2 separate regions of the Homo sapiens genome follow, and region 2 is linked to region 1. The links come from fine-mapping of genetic effects on gene expression. A gene starts in region 1. The other region holds a variant in brackets. All regions are shown on one strand. Distances are between the middles of the regions. Region 1 holds the start of B3GNT9 (UDP-GlcNAc:betaGal beta-1,3-N-acetylglucosaminyltransferase 9). Region 2 overlaps CES4A (carboxylesterase 4A).

What was found. PIP is the estimated chance that this variant, and not a neighbour inherited with it, causes the effect.
Region 2: its variant is the best candidate, but not a certain one, in a credible set for the expression of B3GNT9 in tibial nerve (GTEx, PIP 0.53).

Annotation. Positions count from the first base shown.
Region 1 is chr16:67,149,420-67,152,424 of GRCh38, forward strand. B3GNT9 (UDP-GlcNAc:betaGal beta-1,3-N-acetylglucosaminyltransferase 9) reads right to left here and starts at 1,579. Exons shown (of 2, transcript NM_033309.3): 1 at 1,446-1,579; 2 at 1-1,252. The coding sequence starts at 1,066. RefSeq lists silencers at 935-1,364, 1,375-1,534.
Region 2 is chr16:66,998,722-67,001,221 of GRCh38, forward strand. It overlaps CES4A (carboxylesterase 4A), which reads left to right. Exons shown (of 14, transcript NM_001364782.1): 3 at 1,917-2,058; 4 at 2,136-2,269. Among named protein-coding and RNA genes, the nearest start is that of CES4A, 11 kb to the left of the region's middle. RefSeq lists an enhancer at 2,285-2,500. The variant G/A (reference allele first, on the strand shown) is at 1,056.

The sequences.
Region 1 (3,005 bases):
AGGGGTCGAAGGTGCTCAAATGCGGCGCGGCTGAAGGCTGGGGGATGCCAAAGGTGCGGAAGGCAGGGTGAGGCTCGGGCGTGAGCCGCAGGCGCTGCAGACACATGCCCAGAAAGACGTCGTCGATGGGGAAGAGCTCGACCTGCGCACAGGCGCCAGCCAGGCGGTGCAGCGTGGCCCCGGAAAGCACAAAGCCACCGCCGCCCGCGTAGGCCGGATAGGCGGGCAGGCCGTACACGGCCTCGGGGATGTAGTACTTGCTAGCCCGCGTGCGGATGGGCCGCGCATGCACAATTACGTCACCAGCAAGCAGGTCTTGCGCCGGGTCCCGCGGCGCCAGGAACTCCAGGAGATTTCCCACGTTCACGAACACATCTGCGTCGCCCTTAAAAACGAAGCGCACGTCGGGGCAGAAAGCTGAGGCCCAGGCTAGAAAGTGGATCTCCTTGAGCGTTAGGTTAAAAAAGGTGTCGTCGAAGGCCCAGAGCAGGATGTCCGCATACGCAAGGCTCTCGGCCCGCAGCAGGGCGCGCCAGTGGGTTCGCGCGCCCTCCCCAACTTCGTCGGCCCCGCCCGAGCCTGCGCCCCTGGGCACGCCCAGCAAGAACACGCGGCGCACCAGCGCCCCCTGCACGCGACCCTCCGCGCCCCACGTCTGGCGCACGGCTTGGCGCCGCTCGAAGTCCTCTGCCACCGACTTGACAGCAATAAGCAGGTCCGGGCGGCCACCGGGTGCGCCGTCGCCGCGGCACTTGTGCGGCTGGTTAATGAGCAGTGGAAACCGCCGCTGGTCCTTGGCGCGCAAATAGCGGGCGAAGTCAAAGGGTCCCGTAGGCGTGGGCGGCGCCGGTGTGTCCCCTTCGTAGGCCGGCGGGGCTGCACCCGCGTCGGGTAACTGGAACGCGCGGGGTCCGGGGGTGGGCCTCGGTGCCGCCCTCCCTCGCCCTCGCGGCGCGCTCGCCGTCGGGGCCGCGCCGTCGCGCTGCGCATAGAGTAAGAGGCCCAGGGAGGCGCCAAGGAGCAGCGTGAGCAATGCGTCCCTGCGTAGGCGCAGCCTCCTCCTCATCTCCGCGCGGCCTGCGCCCTCCCTCCCCTGTAAGGGTCGCAGTCGGCAGCAGGGGGCAGCGAGCCCCGCCCTCCCCAGCTGAGGGGGCGGGAGGCCACGCCCCGGGGGGGGCTCCAGCGACCGACGGTTGAGCCCCTTGCGTTGTTCTCCTCCTCCCGGCCGTGTCGCACCGCCGGGACCGGCAGCCTGAAGGGACAAGAAGTTCACCCATGTAGCCAACTCCCCCGCGGCCTCAGCTCCGGCCCAGGACTGCGACCCAGGGCCGGGCAGGGAGACTGGGAGCCTCGGCCCCTCCCCCGCCCGCCTCCCTCGCGCTGAGGCCGAATCCCTTCCACCCTGCCATCCCCTCAATGTCGGGCCCTGGGGTCCCGACACTCACGCTCGGCCCTCGGAAGTGGCGCAGCCCCGGACGCCCTGGCCTCCGGGGCTCAGCGCAGGGTCCGAGGGGCCGCCATGGACCGGGCCCGAGCCAAATGCAGCGTTGGCAGGAAGGGGGACCGGTGCCGTGCCACGTGACCCTCCAGCTGTGCGCGCCCAGACTTCTGGAGCTCAGCTCCGCCCCGGCGCCAGGAGCACTCCGGCCTCAGAGTGGGGACTAATCCCTGAGAGGGAGCCTCCTCACTCTCAGTCCCTCTGGGAAGGGCTGGTCTGGGTGCTCACACCCCAAATTCGCCTTTCTGGGGATTGGGAAGAAGCATCAACTCCCCTGGTTAGCTCCCCCAACTATCCACTCCCCACTCCCGCGTCTCTGGAGTGGGGCGGAGCCTGGGCTGCTAGGAGCCCCTGAGCAGGCCGGTTCCAAATGCGCATGAACCTGGCCACCATCCCGGGCGGGCCTCTCCTCAGCAGCCCTGATTCCATCAGGCAGGGTGCATACGCTGCCCCCGAGACACATGGCTGTCTTCTTACTCCTGGTTCTGCCATGCTCCCCACCCCCAGTAAACACACGCACGGGACAAACAAGGCAGCCCACCCAATCCTCAGGGCAACTCTGCCAGCAGCTCTCATTCATGCCCAGATGGGGACACTGGGGGGCTCTTCGGGGAGTTAAGTGACTTGCCCAGGATCCAAAGGCCAGAAAGCTCTGCCCCCAGGTCTTCTGAAATTCAGGCCAGGATTATTTTATCTGTCCTTGCCCCGCTCATTCATCCACTGGGATACAGAACAGGGGGCCAACCCAGTCTGCTTTAATTTCACAGGCAAGCACTTCAGCCTGTCTCCCCGGGGGCTAATGGACCTGAGCCCAAGCCAGGTGCAGTTCTGAGTCCCCTGGTCCCCAGCATAGCCTACTGCAGGTAGAAATGATCAGGCCTGTGCAGCTGCAGGTCAGACAGGGCTGGCAAGGATGGGGACAGCTTGGGAAGACTCCTGGCGGAGGCCTTGGCTAAAGGATTGCTCTGGGATGCAGGTGGACAGAGGTGCTCTGCAATGGAGAGCTAAGTCCTTGCGCAGCTCAGCTGCCAGCTCTCTCTTTCTTGGTCCCAGCCCATGTGGTGGAGCCTGGAATAGACAGCCTCTACTGGTCTCTTAAGAACCCAGCCCCATCCTCTGTCCAAGGGCTATATCTGCTCCTGACGGCTTCTTCCCACCAATGTTCAATCTTAAAAAGCCACCTCTCTGGCTGGGTGTGGTGGCTTATGCCTGTAACCTCAACACTTTGGGAGGCTGAGGTGAGTGGATCACTTGAGGTCAGGAAGTCAAGACCAGCCTGGCCAACGTGGTGAAACCCCCATCTCTACTAAAAATACAAAAATTAGCTAGACATGGTGGTGGGCACCTGTAATCCCAGCTACTTAGAGGGCTGAGGCAGGAGAATTGCTTGAACCTGGAAGGTGGAGGTTGCAGTGAGCCAAGAACACACCACTGCACTCCATCCTGGGCAACAGAGCGAGACTGTCTCAAAAAAAAAAAAAGGCCAGTCGTGGTGGCTTACTCCTGT
Region 2 (2,500 bases), 150 kb before region 1:
CTAGGTGTCGTGGCATGTGCCTCAGGAGGCTGAGGCAGTGAGCTGATATCTCCCACCTGAACCCAGGAGGCAGAGGTTGCAGTCAGCCAAGATGGTGCCACTGCACTCCAGCCTGGCCGACAGAGCGAGACTCCATCTCAAACAAAAAAAAAAAAGAGAGGAGATAGAGCAAAGGGGAATATAATATGGTCAACCATGTTGAGGGCTGTCAGGGCAAGTAAGATAATGACAGAGATTTAGCAAGATGGATGTCACTGGTGACCATGGCAGGATGGCTCTGATGGTGGGATGGGCACAGAAGCCTTGGCTGTTCATAATCCCAGTTCCCAGCTATCAGAGCCCTGGCTTTCCTGGTGAGGTGCTAGGTGTGGTTTACTAGACAGCATTCTAATACCACATTAGCTGCTGCCAAAGGAGTGTTGGAATGCTGTAGGGAAGGACTGGTGAAAGGGAGCAGGTGATGCTCTGGGAACAGGCTAGGCTAGGACAAGAGCAGAAGGGAGCAGAGGAACAGGCGAGGCAAACAGGGTGTCCTGCGCCCAATCAAATGGTCCAGGCCCAGCTGTTATGAGAATAGCCACCTAGGGGTTGGGCCAGCAAGGAGAAAAGGTGAGGTGGCCGGAGAGCCCATGCTACAAAAATACCCCAAATATCCACACAGTATAAGGCACTGGGCTGGGTGCCAGTACTCAGATGAATCTACCTCTATTCCTGCCTTTGGGAAGTGCATGGTCACTTGGGGAGAAAAACAGCCAACTGAAATAACTCCAACCAGGACATGGTCAACAGCGGACAGGAGGCCAGGCATGGTGGCTCATGCCTATAATCCCAGCACTTTGGGAGGCCGAGGTGGGCAGATCACTTAAGGCCAGGAGTTCGAGACCAGCCTGGCCAACATGGTGAAACCCCGACTCTACTAAAAATACAAAAATTAGCTGGGTGTGATGGCGCGTGCCTGTAGTCCCAGCTACTTGCAAGATTGAGGTAGGAGAATTGCTTGAACCTAGAGGCAGAGGTAGCAGTGAGCCAAGATCGTGCCACTACACTCCAGCCTG[G/A]GCAACAGAGCAAGACTCTGTCTCAAAAAAATAAGTGGACAGGATGTCGGGAGGCACAGAAGAGGAAGTGACCAGGAGAGGAGACACCACTTAAGCTGGGCCTTAAACACGAATAGGAGTTTGCTGGGCAGGGCAGAAGGCATTTGCTTGAGAGGACTGAGGCCCACGGGCTTGGAGGTGGGAGGCAAGGGGCCACATGTATCTACAGCAAAGGGTGGCTGGGACAGAGATGACTGGATGGAAAGGAGGGCCTGGGTACTCCGCGTATCTTAACTTTATCCTGAGGGCAGTGGAGAGCCAGGGAAGATTTTTGTTGATTTGTTTGTTTTTATTGATATATCATAGTTGTACATATTAGGGAAGATATGAAGAAGAGGAGTGACATAGTCCGCCAGAGTGTGGCCGAGGAGTAGGAGGAGTGTGAAGAGGCTGGGGTACTGTCCAGACCAGAGACGGTGGTGGCCTTGACATCTCCCCAGAGATGGGGATGGAGGGGAGGGACCATATTCCAGAGCTGTTTGGGAGGCAGAAGGGAGACTGAGGGGAGGGTGGGGCATGAAAGACAGGGAGGTGCCCAGGGCAGGCAGGTTCCTGCCTTGACAGCACCAACAGGAGCAGGAATCTCTCCACGGACTGAGGCGCCGGGCAGGGAGGGGATGGTTCCTGAGAGGCCAACCTGCCTCCCAGTCCTGGGCCCCGGGGCTGGCGGAGGCCTCCTGTACACGCACACGCACGCACATGCGCACGCACACGCACGCGCACAGACGCTGCCTGGATTTTGCTTTGGGTTCCGTCTTCTCACTGCGGACCCTGGATTGAAACGATCTCCCCGCGGCCGCCGCCGCTACCTGGTGCCCGCAGGTGCCTGCAGGAGTCCTGGGGCCAGCTGGCCTCGATGTACGTCAGCACGCGGGAACGGTACAAGTGGCTGCGCTTCAGCGAGGACTGTCTGTACCTGAACGTGTACGCGCCGGCGCGCGCGCCCGGGGATCCCCAGCTGCCAGTGAGTGCCAGGTCTCCCGCGCCCGCGGTCCCACCGCCGCCCACCGCCCCGCTCAGATCCCGGCCTTCTTCGTCCAGGTGATGGTCTGGTTCCCGGGAGGCGCCTTCATCGTGGGCGCTGCTTCTTCGTACGAGGGCTCTGACTTGGCCGCCCGCGAGAAAGTGGTGCTGGTGTTTCTGCAGCACAGGCTCGGCATCTTCGGCTTCCTGAGGTGGCGGGGCCGGTACCCTTTGGGACCGCAGCTGTGGCCAGAGCGGCGGGGACTGGGTGGGAAGGGAGGGGCGGGGCCTGGGGCGGGGATGGGGGGGGTGGGGCCGCGAGGCGGGGGCGGGGCCTGGCGCTCGGTGGAAGGGGCGGGCGCTCCATACCATCTGGATGGGGCGAGCTAACTCCAAGGAAGGGGGTGTGGTCGCAGGACTGGGTCTTAGAGGGGCAAGGCTGG